2 separate regions of the Homo sapiens genome follow, and region 1 is linked to region 2. A link means that fine-mapping ties the variant in region 2 to the expression of a gene that starts in the linked region. Tissue or cell type: nasal epithelium. Region 2 holds a variant in brackets; the other region holds the start of a gene. All regions are shown on one strand. Distances are between the middles of the regions.

Region 1 (8,000 bases), 170 kb after region 2:
CGAGAAGACTTATCTTTATACTTGTATTTATTTTAGAATTATAATTACATATCATTTGCACCTCTTATTTAACCAAATATAAGTAAGTTAAGATTTATTGAGATAATATATTTGAAAATAATTTTAAATGCAATGGCACCCTAAAGTTATAGGATCAAATTATAATTATTCATTTTCAACAGAAATAAATTAGCTTACTTATTTTCCATCACCTGAAAATTTTCTTGGATTTGGGCTAAATGATGAATAGCCTATTAGTTTACGTTCTTTTTATATGTTTCTCTAATTAGAAAAGAGTCTGAAAAAGTCAAGGACTATTTCACCCTGGTATTCTTAGATCACTCGCTACAGTCTATTATTAGACATATTATGTTTCCACTGTTTAAACTCCTTTTGTCCACCCATTATTGTTTATACCTGCAAAAAAATCCAACACCAAGTTCTGCCTGGTTGCAAATTAATGTCATGACCTTTCCTATCCTACTTGTATATCCAGAAGCAGCACTTAAATGTGAGACTAAAAATCACCCCGCTTCAATAAGTAAATAATGTTTGTGGATTACAGATCATAGTCTTTTATCCGGAATAATAATGCGGTTTTCATTTTTACAGGAAATGGAAAATAAAACCTCAACAAATGGATTCAGCCATTCAGAATGGCTCTCAAATAGGCAGTGCTGAAAATTGATCTGGTTACTTGTCAATTGCATTATTCAGAGATGACGTCATCAGCAAAGCTGAAGCCAACGCTGGGTCATTGCCCACCCCATGTCAACCTTTTCCATATAAAAAACTTACTCTGTAAAGATATAAGCATCTCTAGGGCTGTAATTTGAGCTTTTAAACCTAATTAAACAGCTTTCCACCAGCCTCATTAATAAGCAGTAATCCAGGTTCCATACAAACACCTGAACATATGACAGCCAGTGCTAGCAAAATATTTCATAGCATATCATCACTTATGATATTCTAGAGGAAATACAGGCTGTGGCTTGAGATTATTCCTGTAATATTTATTTCTGATTCTGTTTACGATCCATTTTATAGATTAGCTTTCTAGAGTATTGCTAACTGTGAAATCCTAAATTGAAACTTTTCAGTACGACATGTACTTTGATGTTCTTTAAACAATTCCATTCTGTTCCATCAGTGTGAAACACATCATGCTTCTTTACCTGGGGGGTTATGCTCATTGAGAATCACAAGTGATGCTGGTGTAGGTCTTCTTTTCCTGATCTGTGAACGACAAAAGCCCAGCTAATATCAGTGAGTATTAGACACTGCTCCAGGTTACTCTGCAGCTTGCAAAGCTGTCTCACCCTCATCTTTTCCCCACATGCAAAAGCAAATTTCTGGAGGACACATGGAAGGTGCTCACTAATTTTATTTTGAAATAATAGAAAGCCACAGAATTGAACTGTCTGATAGAAGTATCACCCTCTTTGACCAAAAAGCTACATTTCCACGGAAAAGAAATAATTATATACAACTGAATGATACAACAGAAAATTAATTTACAATGAAGGTACAGGGTTGACCTGATAATGTTAGTGGCTTGCTTGGAGCCTCATAACATTGGTGGTGCTTTCAAGATTCATTACCCTTATTTTTAAACAGGATAAGGAAGAGCTTGGAAACCTATTTCTAGCAGGTACCAGAGTTAAATCAACAGCATAAGCTTTGAATTTCAATTAATTTTGTTAACTTTTTTATTTTCTAGTATAATATTTAGAACAAATAAACAAATGAAGAATAAATATGGATCTTATGAGAATATGCAACTTATTACAAACTCTAAAGTTTTTTTTTTTCATTTTAAGAGTTACAGGAGCATAGTATTGTCAGAATCCCTTGAATATAATATCCTTTATTTGTTTATTATATTCATTTATGGGTAAATACCCAAAGTAAGTGTCAGTAGGATAGATAATAAAATTTATCAATGACATCCTGTCCAAGATAGAAGCAACATCCCATTCAGCATGGATAGACACATGTTCAAGGATACATTTATCTGGCCTGAGTCTAGGTGCATCTACCTCAGATTTCAAAACATCCTGAAACACTATGAGTCACGGATTAAATAATTATTTTTAAGACTTTATATCAAATACTTGGAAAAGGATTCAAGAATAATTTAAGTTTTAAGAAATGAATGGATTAGGTTGATGTCCTCATAAATTTCTTTGCTTTTGCCTCCTCACAGTTGCAGTTCTAAGAGATGCCATTGCATCAAGAATCTAAGTAAATCTGAATATGAAAGGTGATACAGATGTAAACCAATATTAGACATGGACAAAGAATCTAGGAAATGTTAAAACACTGTTTGTAATGTCTGAACAAAACGATTTTAAAACTGTACAAAAAGCTACAAATCCTAGCTGTAATATATTATATAAACTTATAATCATTGTTTTGTGTCCACAATAATAAAACATATGAAAATAAAGTATTAGGCCTATAGTCTCAAACTATTGCAGGATTTAATGATTTTATTGCTAAATCAATCATTTTATTTTATAAAAAATGAAATAAAATGTTGCTCATTTTGATAATTTTTAAAAGTTGCTCTAAATGTTGAAACTGTTATTTTAATGAGCAAAAATGAACAGATTTATGAATCCATATCTGAATTGCTTACAGAGCCATTTTCCCCTCAGAGGTGCTAATTTTGTATCAAATGAAGTGTTACATTTTAGACAATAGTTCTCCCAATGCAATTTAAATACAAGTATGTGTAAAAACCAACTTATTTCTTGTTTACATTATCTTGAAAGTCAGAGTTAGCAAAATCAAAAGGTAAAGAACCTTTCAATTAATAACCAGAATGCATGTTCATATTACCTTATGTACAGGAATGGTTCTCCATGCAATTTCACATACCTGCTCTGCTGCTTCAGGTGCAATCTGACTCTGGAATACAGGCACGGCAAACTGTATCTTTTTGGGACTGTTGGGCTCCATGGTAATGATGATAATTAGTCAGAGATGTGAAGAGCTCAGAAAGACTAACCCTAAGTGGTGTCCGGGATGTGTTTCCTCAGACACACTCCACTAAGCCACACAGAGTGCTTCGTAATAAATAGCTGTAATTCCAGATCGAGCAAGTGAAGATGCCGAGGTTTGAGTAACCCCCTTCTTCAACATCCACGGTGATGCCTGGCTTGCCTGTTCCCCCACCAATCCCTTGGATCCTCTCAGCACAATACAGAAAGGAACAATACGCTAATTGTGTGCCTCTTCACTAATACACATGCCAAGCATTCACTCAGCAGCTAATTGAAAATGCAATGCTAGCCTTGAAGGACCCACTGCCCTGGGATTTGAAAGAAAGGCTCTATCCACTGTACATTACTAACCGGCTGCTCAAAAGTGCAATGTAAGCTCCCTCTGAGTATTGCAGGGATGGGCCATTCATTATTGATGAACATCAAGCAGGAAGTTTTTAGAGTTGGGGGCAGGGTTTAGGTATGGAATCATTTCTCTCAGCAACTTATAAGTCAGATACCTTTGCTATTTCACATTCAGCCACGAAACAGTTGAATGGCCATGGAGGGTAAGCCACAACCAATAATATCAGCTATGTTTATGCTATAAGATCTGGTTAGTTTAAACTCATCCTAGGAGGCAGAGCATCTGTGGTGTAGTGAGGGCAGCATTACTGCAGGGCTGAGCAGATCTTAGTTCGAGTTCCATCTTCATAATTAACAAGCTCTGTGGCCTCCAGAAAATTACTGGCTACGTCTAGGCCTCCACACTTCCATCAGAAAAATGAGGGGATTGGACTCAATGACCTTTAAAGTCCCATCCTGTTCCAACATTCTAAAATTGCAGTTCACAGTTTTCATTAGAGTGGAAAGTATTGTGCTGCTAAATTTAGCAAACAGCTTGGAAGTCACTGCTGCTTCAATGACCTCTATTTTATTTCCTGGTGGAGCCAGTTACATTCTCTGACTTGGAAGAATATGACTGGAAAACATTAGTAGAAACCTAATGGTAGTCAACATTATGGCTTGTTGTCAACAGTAGAAATGTATGTAAAGATAAGGACTTGAAAAAAGCATGAAGTGGGTAATGTTCAGAGGGTTGATATTGGCTAGTGGTCAGGGAACAGTGGGACACTAGCCTGATTGCCACATTAGTTAATGTTAAAGGGGAGGTAGTAACATAGCCAGATGGCCTTCATGCATTCGAATACTTTTATGAAGGAAGTGTGAAAATGAAACTGCTTGAGATCTCTGCTTTCTTGAGAGGCATTATGTGATGAATACTAGATTTGTAAATATGTTTTTGGATGTACTTAATATATTTAGACATCGACTATGATTCCAGGTATTTACAATTGAAGTTTTTATTTTTTAAATTTTGATTCTGTACTAGGAATCCATCTTAATGATTTAAATAGGCAACATTCTGTTGAAGGAATATAGAAAGGAATATGCATTATTGAAGTAGTTTTCTATATTCACTAGGGGAAAAAGCAAAGATGTGGATGTGAAAGCACTTTTAGTGGAGAACAGTGCTGACTAGCAAGAAATCTTGTGATGAGTTTATCCGTGTAGTGTCGAAGGGAAATTTATAAATTACATTTTATGTAACAGTTTACAAAAGTCTCCAGAAATAAAATCTAAATTGATATCATTAATGAAGTTATTTCTTTGAATATATCTTCAAATTATATAAAAGGAAAGCAAGACAAGACAGTATTTTTAGTGAGGAGTTAATACAAAACTTCACATAATGTAATAATTAAGAACATGCACTTGGCAACCTTGAGTTCAAGCTCTAGCTCTGCTACTTACCAAGTTTATCAGTTTGGGCAGTAGGAGAACTTTCTTCTTGTGAGGTTTAGATTACTCAATTCCTGAAAAGAGCTCATTACAAGGCCAGCACGGAATCACTCAATAAAAGATAGCTATTATTTTTCTTTCAGCCAGATTTTTCAAAAGGCTTCAACATACACATTTTCAACCAGAATCACTAAGAATATCTATCTACTTGGAATAATTTGATTCCACTTAGAATAATAGGTGATAAAGTGAAATTTCATATATGTGTTTGGTATAAATACCAATAAAATGGTTCTCATTAACTAATTGCCCTATTTTGAATAGGTTGATCAGAGACAATATTGTAAATGGGCTATCTAGACCCTTTAAGCTTCTTGTTTTTTATGAGGCCAACTCCTGTGTGTCCATTAAGATTCAGTTAAGTATCATTGCTTCTAGGAAGCCTTTGTAGATTTACTGTTCTCCACATTGGGTTTAAACTCACCTCTCTGTATTCTTAAAGAATGAAGCATAACTCTATTTATCATAATAACTACCTACATGTCTTTTGAATGTTTAGTATTTTGCAACTTTATTTATTCACATAGCAAATATTTGTTGAGTAGATACTATAGTCTACTCCACACCAGGCCTTTTGCTATGGCACTAGAGGAGAGATTGTGTTAAAAGGTATTTGAAGTCCTTTTAAAGCTAAATTCTTACTTGAAGAACTACTTAAAATGCAACTTAAATGTAAAATAATCTAAAAAATGTTAATATAGAGTTTGCATGGGGGGTATAATTTTCCTAAATATTAAGTGCACATTTTTTTATCCCTATTAGAGACAAGAGTAATAATTAACCCTTATATGATACCATGTGCCAGGAATTATTCTAAGTGCTTTATCTGCATTAATTTATTCCGACAACTGTTTGAGGTAGATATTATTGCTATCCTCAATTTAAAATTAGGTAATCGGGAGTCAGAGAGTTTAGATAATTTGTCCGGGGTCATCCAGCTAATATATGGCAAAGCCCAGTTTCAAACCCGGGCAATTTTGCATAGGGCTTGGGCTTTTAATCACAACAGCATCATGATGGCCACTATAATATAAGGCCAGTAGAGAAGTCAGTGGCAGTCAACAGAATCTCCGCAGTGGTTAGAGGTTCTGACCACATCAATTCCATGGTAAAAGATCTTAAGATGACGTGGTATATGAATGAAAGAGAAGCAAGTAGCATGACTAGGATACTATTAATCAAGATACTCAATCATTGCAAATTAGATATCAATATAGAAAGGAGAGCCTAAAGTTGGATGTTGTACCACCAAACTGACTGAAAAAGGAATCCTCTCCGTTGCTCTTTAAAAGTAATGGGTTCAATCATTAAAGATTAAAAAGGCCTCTAGAACAAGCAACAACTATAGTCTCTCTTCAAAGTAAGTGATACTGGAGTAAAGATGGAAAAACATTAGGAAAATAGGCCATTAGGCCTTCCTGATTTTACACTATAATATCTATCTTGCCCTACTTTGCATGATTCCTCAAGACCCTCCTACAGGCTGCCGCAGTTCACCTTACCACCAGTCTTTCTGTGGCCTCCCCTACCTCCCTGGAAGCCATCCTGCCTCCCCGCTCCCTTTTTTAACCCAAATTATATTCATTCTCTAATTCCACCTCCTTAGAAAGAGACCTTCAGATTCTCCACACAAGAAGAATCACTCAATTTGTTCCCTCTCCTGGTATTTAATTATATATAGTTTTATGTTATTCTATAATAATTTCCTATGTGTTTCTTTTGCCTCTTCTCCTAGACTGCAAATCCCATCCTATCTTAAACATAAACATAACAAGCAAGATGCTCGTCATCTAGTAGTTACTAAATAAGTCCAATTAGGCTTTATCTAATACTATCAAGAAACGTAAGGTGTTCCAATAAACTGAATTTTCCAAAAGACTATGGCTCACCCTTTCAAGCCCTACACCTTGCTGTTAGTATTTCTTGCTATAGTAACTGCCTCCAAATACCATAGATACATAGTTCTTATGACTGTTTTTAGAGTTATTTTTCTTTATCTGATAACTGTCAATACTTGTTTTTTAATTGTTACCTGATATTAACAAGTGCTTTCTTTGAGGGAAGAGAAGGGAAAGAAAGGGGAAGAGAGGAGAGGGGTGGAGAGGGAAAAGCAAATTTTTAAACTTTTTAATGTATTTTCTATTCCAGGCTTTGTTTTAAATATCTTGAATTCATGAATCTTGAAAGTTATGCAGATATATGAGACGTGACTTTGTTTAACAATTGGTTGGCTAACTAAATGCCATCAAAAATAAAAGCAAATATGTATTACACATGACTACATTAAATGCTGGAAATACAATAATGAACAAAAGCAGAAAAAATACAATATCATCTAGATATGAGTCCATTGAAAAGATTTCTAGCCCTAATGCAATGATTTTCTGTCTCTTCTATTTAAAACCCAAATGCTGGCAGTCACATTTCAGATGCACTCCCTTGTATGTCCTCCTTCAATTCTAGTTGTAACTTCATTCATTTCCTCCATCAAAGAAAACAGATGCATGGGAGAGTGACAATATTATTGGGCTTTCATAGAATTATCTCAATTATATTCAATGTAACCTGTTGGAGAACTCCAAAACCTTCATATTAATATTAAATTATTACTGAACCATTGATACCTAATTGAGGCAAAGAGGCCTATCTATAAAATGTGGTCGAATCCCAGTAATATAAGTGAAATGAACCACTCTTTCCAAGTGCTCATTTAAATTAAATTTCCCCCATGGAAATTATTAGCCATATTTTAACTCTTTCAGAATGTCCTATAAGTTCAACCATGCAATTTTAAATATGATATTTTTTCAGATCTACAGCTATAAGAAGCCTTACCAGACTAAGCTCACTATATTGCAATCTCATATTAAAATCTGAATTCCCACAGCACTTAAGTATAAAATACTTGCAATCTCTATCAGGCTTAAAGGCAAACATCAATGATTCATTCATTCCACATTTATTTAGTGCCTACTGTGTTCTTTAAAACTTCTCCTTGGCCGGGCACGGTGGCTCACGCCTGTAATCCCAGCACTTTGGGAGGCCGAGGCGGGCGGATCACGAGGTCAGGAGATCGAGACCATCCCGGCTAAAACGGTGAAACCCCGTCTCTACTAAAAATACAAAAAATTAGCCGGGCGTAGTGGCGGG
Region 2 (8,000 bases):
ACCTGTTACATGAGTCTTTAGAGATTAGAGATTCTACTGCTTCTCATAATCCTGACTGAAAGTTGTAGATCAATAAAGTACTTTGTGACTAATTGCTTAAAGTGCTTTTATTTTAAAGCATGAATTTACAAGTTTACTTCAATAGGAGCAACTTGCATATACATCCAAGGGAGGCAATTTCTTCCACCACTACGTTCACAAACTCTAAGTAGATGAAGCTAGCTCTCTCCACATATCCCATCAAATAACCCCCCATCATAGCCAGCCAAAGTTAGGTATTGACATGTACATAGCAGAGAAAGAAATAACGTGGAAAGACTTTTGTAAGAAGCCAAGAGACTTTCTCACCCCAGGTTAAAGCATAGCTGAATATGTGGAATTGATTTCTATCTTGGCTGATTCTTAGGCCCAATCAACATAGCTACTACCAACTCTCTAAAGCCTCTTAAAGATTTGGTGGCTTCAAGCTAAAAGATGAGATGGAAAAACATTTATTTCTGGGGGCATTTGGTAGCTCCAATTCAACTCAGTTTACAAATTTGTTGAACAGTGTTTACAAAATACCATCAGGGATATCTATAGACTCCTAGAATTTTGGATTATGCATACCACCAGCATTTGATGACTTGTTCTTCTGTAACAGATACTTACATGGTGAATATTATTTAGGTTGGTAAAGATTGTAAGTGGGTTTAGTCTCCACGAAAAAAACGAAGAGAAAAAAAATCAAAGGAAACTTACTTTCCTAACTCTTCTCGCATCCTCCCTAGATGGAAACTCATACAAAGAAGTGCCCTCTGCATTGAAGAGTTTGTTGATTATAAACACTAAAATTGGGTCTTAGAGTCTATAGAAACTTGTGATATTTGCAGTCTCTAGGTTAGAAACAGTTCATAGCTCTTGCTATGTTTGAATATGCAAAGTGTGCACAATTTGGGAAGTTTTAAGATCTACAATGGATGCTTAGCCATGGTGTTTCAGGATGGAGAGTCACAATTCATCAAAATAGGCTGGTCACAGTGGCTCACACCTGTAATCCCAGCACTTCGGAAGGACAAGGCAGGTGGTTCACCTGAGGTCAGGAGTTTGAGACCAGCCTGGCCAACATGGTGAAATCCTGTCTCTACTAAAAATACAAAAATTATCCAGACGTGGTGGCGTGTGCCTGTAATCCCAGCTACTGGGAAGGCTGAGCCAGGAGAATCGATTGAACCCAGGAGCTGGAGGTTGCAGTGAGCCGAGATTGCACCATTGCACTCCAGCCTGGGTGACAGAGCAAGACTCTGTCTCAAAAAAAAAAAAATAAAATAAAATAAAATAAAATAATAATAATAATAAAAAAATAAAAAATTCAACGAAACAAAAATGATAACAGGGTTTGTGCTCCTCTACATCTTTTGATTTTTTAAGCATAGATACTTACTTCAGTTATATATTTATACTGGATTTTAAATAAAATAACTTCTCATTATTCTTGGAGTCCCAATGTCTATTATTTCTCCTTTATAGTATTAGCAGCCCTTTACTTTGAAATCCCCACGGGTATAGGACTTGTGCAGGCCTTGCTGCTGGATTCTTTTTAGATTATCTTCTACTGCTGGTTTTATCACAGAGAATAGTAGTAAAAAGATAATCTTATTTCTTACAAATGCTGCTCACACTTCTTACTACCACACTACTCAGCCACCCCTGAAGAACTGAATTTCAAATACTAGTAGCTTGTTAGAGAAGGAAGATGAAAAATGTCATGTTTACTCCACATTTCCCAACTGGAAACTTCACTGTTGTGCTTTTCCAGATGACTAGGAATGCTCCCGCCCTTTCCAATCAATAGATACTTTCCCCTTTGAGTCAGAGCCTTAGCACCATGTTACCAAACTCTTCAACTTAGTAATAAAATTCATGGCTCTGGGGTTGAAAGCCCAGCTCTGTCACTTAGATGGTGTATGACCTTGGGTAAAAAAAAAAAAGTGTTGAAAGGATAAGATGATAAAATATGTGAAGCACTAAGCACAGTGCTTGGTACACAGTAAGCATTTTCTGAATGTTTACTATTGTTTTTACTGTTGCTACTAATATTGTTCTTAATAATTATAAACTTAAGTTATTCCTCCTTACTAAGTTATGCTCTTATGCTATTTCCTGCACAGATAACTTATGATTAGATAATTTGAGCTATAGTAACACTTCATGCTAAAATACATATAGACAGATTATTGATATGGCTGGTGAGGCCTCACAATTATGGCAAAGTCATGGCTTACATGGTGGCAGGCAAGAGAGCTTGTGCAGGGGAGTTCCCATTTATAAAACCATTGGATCTCATGAGACTTATTCACTACCATGAGAACAGCATGGGAGAAACTGCAACCATGATTCAATTATCTTCACCTGGCCCCGCCCTTGAGCTGTGGGGATTATTATTATTATTGAGACGGAGTTTCTCTCTTTTTGCCCAGGCTGGAGTGCAATGGTGCAATCTCGGCTCACTGCAACCTCTGCCTCCCTGGTTCAAGCAATTCTCCTGCCTCAGCCTCCCCAGTAGCTGGGATTACAGGCATGCGTCACAACACCCAGCTAATTTTCTGTATTTTTAGTAGAGACGGGGTTTCTCCTTGTTGGTCAGGCTGATCTCAAACTCCCGGCCTCAGGTGATCCACCAGGCTCTGCCTCCCAAAGTTCTGGGATTACAGGCATGAGCCACTGCACCTGGCTGACATGTGGGGCTTATTATAGTTCAAGGTGAGATATAGGTGGGGACACAGCCAAACCATATCAATTTCCTAGAGCCATTCATTATAAAGATGAATTATACATGTTTATCCTACATGTATATATCTAGTCCATATTTAGTCAGATAGAAGAATTTAAAATATAAATGTGGTTGTGTATTACATCATTTTAAGGTTATTGCATAAAGAGCCAGAATTTCCCAGCTGGACATGGTGGCTCATGCCCGTAATCCCAACACTACTGGAGGCCGAGATGAGCAGATTGCTTGAGTCCAGGAATTCAAGACCAGCCTGGGCAACATGACGAAACCCCATCTCTACAGAAAATATAAAAAAGTACCTGGGCATGGTGGTGTGCTTGTGTAGTTCCAGCTACTTGGGAGTCTGAAGTTGGGAGGATCAACTGAGCCCAGGAGGTGGAGGCTGCAGTGAGCCATGATGGCACCATTGCACTCCAGCCTGGGTAACCAGAGTGGGACCCTCTCTTAAAAAAAAAAAAAAAAAAAGCAGAATTAAAATTGGACATTTTTTTATATTCATGTTTGGGCCCATTAAAAAAAAAAGAGAACAATGAAAAATTATAGGTGAGAGATTTCAGATAAGTGGTAAAATTACATAATATGAATGCCTTGTTTTTTTCTGACATTCTTAAAGTTAAGCAACTTGAAAAATAATTTGTTAGTAGTAGTATTATGTTATAAAATTCCACATTGAAAGTAGATCCTTCAATTAATTTTTTAACTTGTAAATTGAGAAATGGTAACAAACCAGAAAATTTAAGAATTGTTTTTTAAATGATTTCTGTAGTAGTCTGTTCTCACACTGCTAATAAAGACGTACTTGAGACTAGGTAATTTATAAAAGAAAGAGGTTTAACGGACTCACGGCTCCACATGTCTGAGGAGGCATCACAATCATGGCAGAAGGCAAAGGAGAAGCAAAGGTGTGGCTTACATGGCGGCAGGCAAGAGAGGCAAGAAGCAGGAGACCTCCCATTTATTAAACCATCAGATCTCGTGAGACTTATTCACTACCGTGAGAACAGTATGGGGAAACTGCCCCCATGATTCAATTATCTTCACCTGGCCCTGCCCTTCACACGTGGGGATTATTAAGTTCAAGGTGAGATATGGGTGGGGACACAGCTAAACCATATCAACTTCTTAGAGCCATTCATAATAAGGATGAATGATACATGTTTATTTGACACGTATATATCTAGTGTACATGTATAGGAGAGTGAAAATTAATGGTTTATGTTTAGAACAATGCACCTCAGGATTTTTTGTTTTTGTTTTTACATGATTATCATCATCAAAACAAATTCAATCATATTCAACATTCTCCATTCAGGCACAGAAATGGATTTATGTATTGACATTTTTACTAAAGGCAATTGAAGTTTGTTTTGTTGTTGTTGTTGTTTGTTTGTTTTCTTAATCCAGCTTTACAAAGAAAACTCAATCAACCAGAATAGTTTATTCAGATTATTTAAAGGAAAGCCAAAATGTTTGCATCATTTTACAGATTATTTTTTCCAAGTTTTAGCTTTTGAAACTCACTTAGGTAGATAGTTAAAATCAATATTCTACAGTTAATTTGTCCTATTTATAAAGATAAAGAATATGTGAATTTTTGGCATTTCTCTCACACTCAAGTGCAGCCATCACCCGAATAGTGTACATTATACCCATTAAGTAATTTCTCATCCCTTACCTGCCTCCAAACCTCCTACCCTTCAGTATCTCCAACATCAGACTCAATTTTCACCCCATTTTTCATCCTAATTGAGAAATCAGAGCAGCCCCATGTTGCCTTTCACATCAACTTGCCTCTACGAGCCAAATCTGATCATTTCCATGGCTGATTCCTGCTACTCTTTACAAGAGATAAAGTGTGATTTGAATGGTCTTAACTTC[A/T]CCACTCCAGAGCTTCTCTCTCCATTGCCACCCCCAACTTCTCTACCTTCAATCAATGCCTGTGCATTCTTATCATCTCCCTGCTCTCAGAGCCTGCTTTCTTTTAAGAAGATCTGCGATTCAGTCACAAAGTTCCCTTCTAGGAATAATAACATTTTAATAGGTGTCAGAGCCTTCCTCTAAAAGAATGACACTCTGATGGAGAAATAATTGCTTCAACCAGTGGGTAGGAGCTCACAGTAGTTTTCTCAGCTGGGCTTCATTTCTTTCCTGGCATATCATTTTTCTTTTCAACCCTCTGCCTTTGCTCAGGCTCCACCGTACCTCCTCATCCCTTCACTAACAGCATACTCCTACCTGTGTGCCAACAAAACATATACAACCTTCAGACCCAATTTTAGAAAACTCTTTCAAGGAGCCAGCTGAACTACCTCCCACATTGTTAAACTATTTCAGTGTAACTTAAACACTAAGATTTCTGGCTATCTGACAAGGTATTAGCTTCCCCAAGTTGAGTATAATTTCACTGATTTGCAGATGAATATACATATAAATTTTTCATTTTCCGTAGATCACCTGTAAAACTCTCTACATATCTAGATGCCTAGCACATATGCATTGGGTGTAAGTCTAAAGCTTGCTAAAGTAAATTGTTGTATTTTCCTCAAAATCAGATGTTTCTGTTTTTCTTTAATGAACCAATACATAATTTACCTATTTCTTGATTTGTGTCTTATGTAACACTTTAAGGTATTACTTGCTCTAATTTTACAGGGTTGGAGCTAGCACATTTTGGAATTAAGTGGAATTTTGTTTTCACAGCCTTCTTTTTCTTCTGCCTAGTGTGCAGTCCTGTCTTCTCTTACTGTTGCCTTCACGCATACTGCAAAGTAAACGAACACATACAACTGCTTCTTCTCCAAATGCATTAAAATTAAGAGGAAAAAAATAGGCTGGGCACAGTGGCTCACACCTGTAATCCCAGCACTTTGGGAGGCTGAGGCGGGTGGATCACCTGAGGTCAGGAGTTCAAGACCAGCCTGGCCAACATGGCGAAACCCCGTCTCTACTAAAAATACAAAAATTAGCTGGGCCTGGTGGCAGGTACCTGTAATCCCAGCTACTTGGGAGGGTGAGGCAGGAGAATCACTTGAACCTGGGAGGCAGAGGTTGCAGTGAGCCAAGATGATGCCATTGCACTCCAGCCTGGGCAACAAGAGCGAGACTCCATCTCAAAAAAAAAAAAAAAAAAAAAAAAAGAGGAAAAAAATAGGGAAAGTATTTCCCCTGGTATTAAAATAGATTTCTTTATCCCAGCATGTAAGGCAAACTACATTATATGGATGCCAAAACACCAATTAAAATCAGAATATCTGATTTATCCTACATTACATTTTTCCAATGACTGTAACTTTAATCTTTGATCACCAATTTATTCTAGTTATCTGCAACATAAACTATATAAATGGTCTAAAAGTAAAGCTGAAGCAACCTAGAGATATGCCTAAGGAAATACTATTATACATAGCAAAGGTAATATTCTTCTTATGAAAAAATAAGAATGCAGTGTTACTCAGAGCTAATATTTCTGTTGAAAAGACTGCACAAACCAATTTTGTGGTATTTTTCAAACACCATTTATTATTGCTGTTAAATTTAAAAAATTAACTGGGGCATTGCTCTGAGGAATAGCTTGTGATTCTGTCTCCCAAATTCACCTAGGCTATTTTGCGTTGGAATAGTCAGCTACCCCTCTAATCATGTCTTTCTCATCTCTAAAATGAGAATCATAATGATGATTTTCCCACTTACATGCAGGGATTGTTGGGCTAGATAAGTCAAAAATAACGAGTGCAAAATAAGCTATTAAATCATTTTGTTTTTTATATCTACATGAGAAATGATCTTTTAATTATGGATTTGAGGTATTAGAAAAATACAAAAAGAACAACAAATTTATTTCTGTGGTAGGAAAATTACTATTGAGAACAAAACTAATTTTTAAAGGAGTATATTTAAAGTCTATTTAAAGAAAAATATTAGGTAAGCGAGAGGACAGGTGGCATATGAATACAGCAGAATTGGTGAGGGTAGGTTACTCATGATTGTAGCTTGGGAAACAGTCAAACTAGAGGCCAAGATTCTGGTTGTCCTTTGTCAGAGGATCCAGCCCCTTGCTGGCTTTAAGACTTTGGGCAGATAGTTTTCAAGCTATGTCTCAGCTTCCACAATTGTTCAACCTTACTTTATAAGATTGCTGTGAGGGGGGCAGGGCGTGGTGGCTCACACCTGTAATCCCAGCACTTTGGGAGGCCAAGGCAGGTGGATCACCTGAAGGTCAGGAGTTCAAGACCAGCTTGGCCAAAATGGTGAAACCTGTGTCTATGAAAAATGCAAAAAAACAAAAAACAAAAAAATTAGCTGGGTGTGGTGGCAGATGCCTATAGTCCCAGCTACTTGAGAGGCTGAAGCAGGAGAATCGCTTGAACCCAGGAAGCGGAGGTTGCAATGGGCTGAGATTGCACCATTGCACTCCAGCCTGGACAACAAGAGCAAAACTTTGTCTCAAAAAATAATAATAATAAGTTTGCTGTGAGGATTCAGGGAAGTGAGGTGAGTGAAGCACTTAGAATAGTGTCTGCCACCTAGTTGGTGTTCACAAAGTATTGATTATTATTGGTATATTTTCAATTGTATAATAATTTATCCTAACAGGTTATTTCTCAGATAGTTAGTGAGACCCTGACTGGAGGACAAAAGTCTCTAATATCCACTTGATAGTGTGTTTGGTGTAATTCCCTGCAAGTCTTATTCACAGCACCATGAGTCTAACACATTATGATTCTAATATGGTAAAAGTGAGCTTAAATTGCAATCTAAAAGCCTAGATTAGCTAAATTTAGAGGATTTCTGTTGGTTTTGGTAAGTCTGTCTCTCCTATAACAACTATCCCCTCCCTGCTCCTTGAAGAATTGAGACTCTATTTACAAACCAAACCCATAAAATTTCTATCATTTTACAAATTATTTTGTTAGATTTGAACTTTTGAAACTGGTTGAGATGAACACCTAAAACTCTTTGAACTGAACAGAATTATTGATGTTCCTTTATTTTCACTGTTTTTCCTGGCTGACAAACAAGTTTATATGCAATTTCTTTGAACAGACCACTTGCATTCATTCCTAATGAGCAGCTTTCTATATATATGACATTGCAAATCCTTTCAGTAAGATGAAATTCAAAAGTGACGTTACTGGTCTTCTTGAAGTACCAGTGAATTAAAAGCCAACCGTCTTGACTTCAGGTTATCTATTTATGATCTGCATTGTAGAAAGTCAACCGATTATTC

Evidence for each region. PIP is the estimated chance that this variant, and not a neighbour inherited with it, causes the effect.
Region 1: PPP1R1C starts here. The variant in region 2 is fine-mapped to the expression of PPP1R1C in nasal epithelium (TOPMed, PIP above 0.99).

What each region holds. Positions count from the first base shown.
Region 1 is chr2:181,981,075-181,989,074 of GRCh38, reverse strand. PPP1R1C (protein phosphatase 1 regulatory inhibitor subunit 1C) reads right to left here and starts at 3,222. Exons shown (of 5, transcript NM_001080545.3): 1 at 2,884-3,222; 2 at 1,176-1,236. The coding sequence starts at 2,964.
Region 2 is chr2:182,150,323-182,158,322 of GRCh38, reverse strand. All of the region lies in intron 13 of PDE1A (phosphodiesterase 1A), which reads left to right. Among named protein-coding and RNA genes, the nearest start is that of PPP1R1C, 170 kb to the right of the region's middle. The variant A/T (reference allele first, on the strand shown) is at 4,652.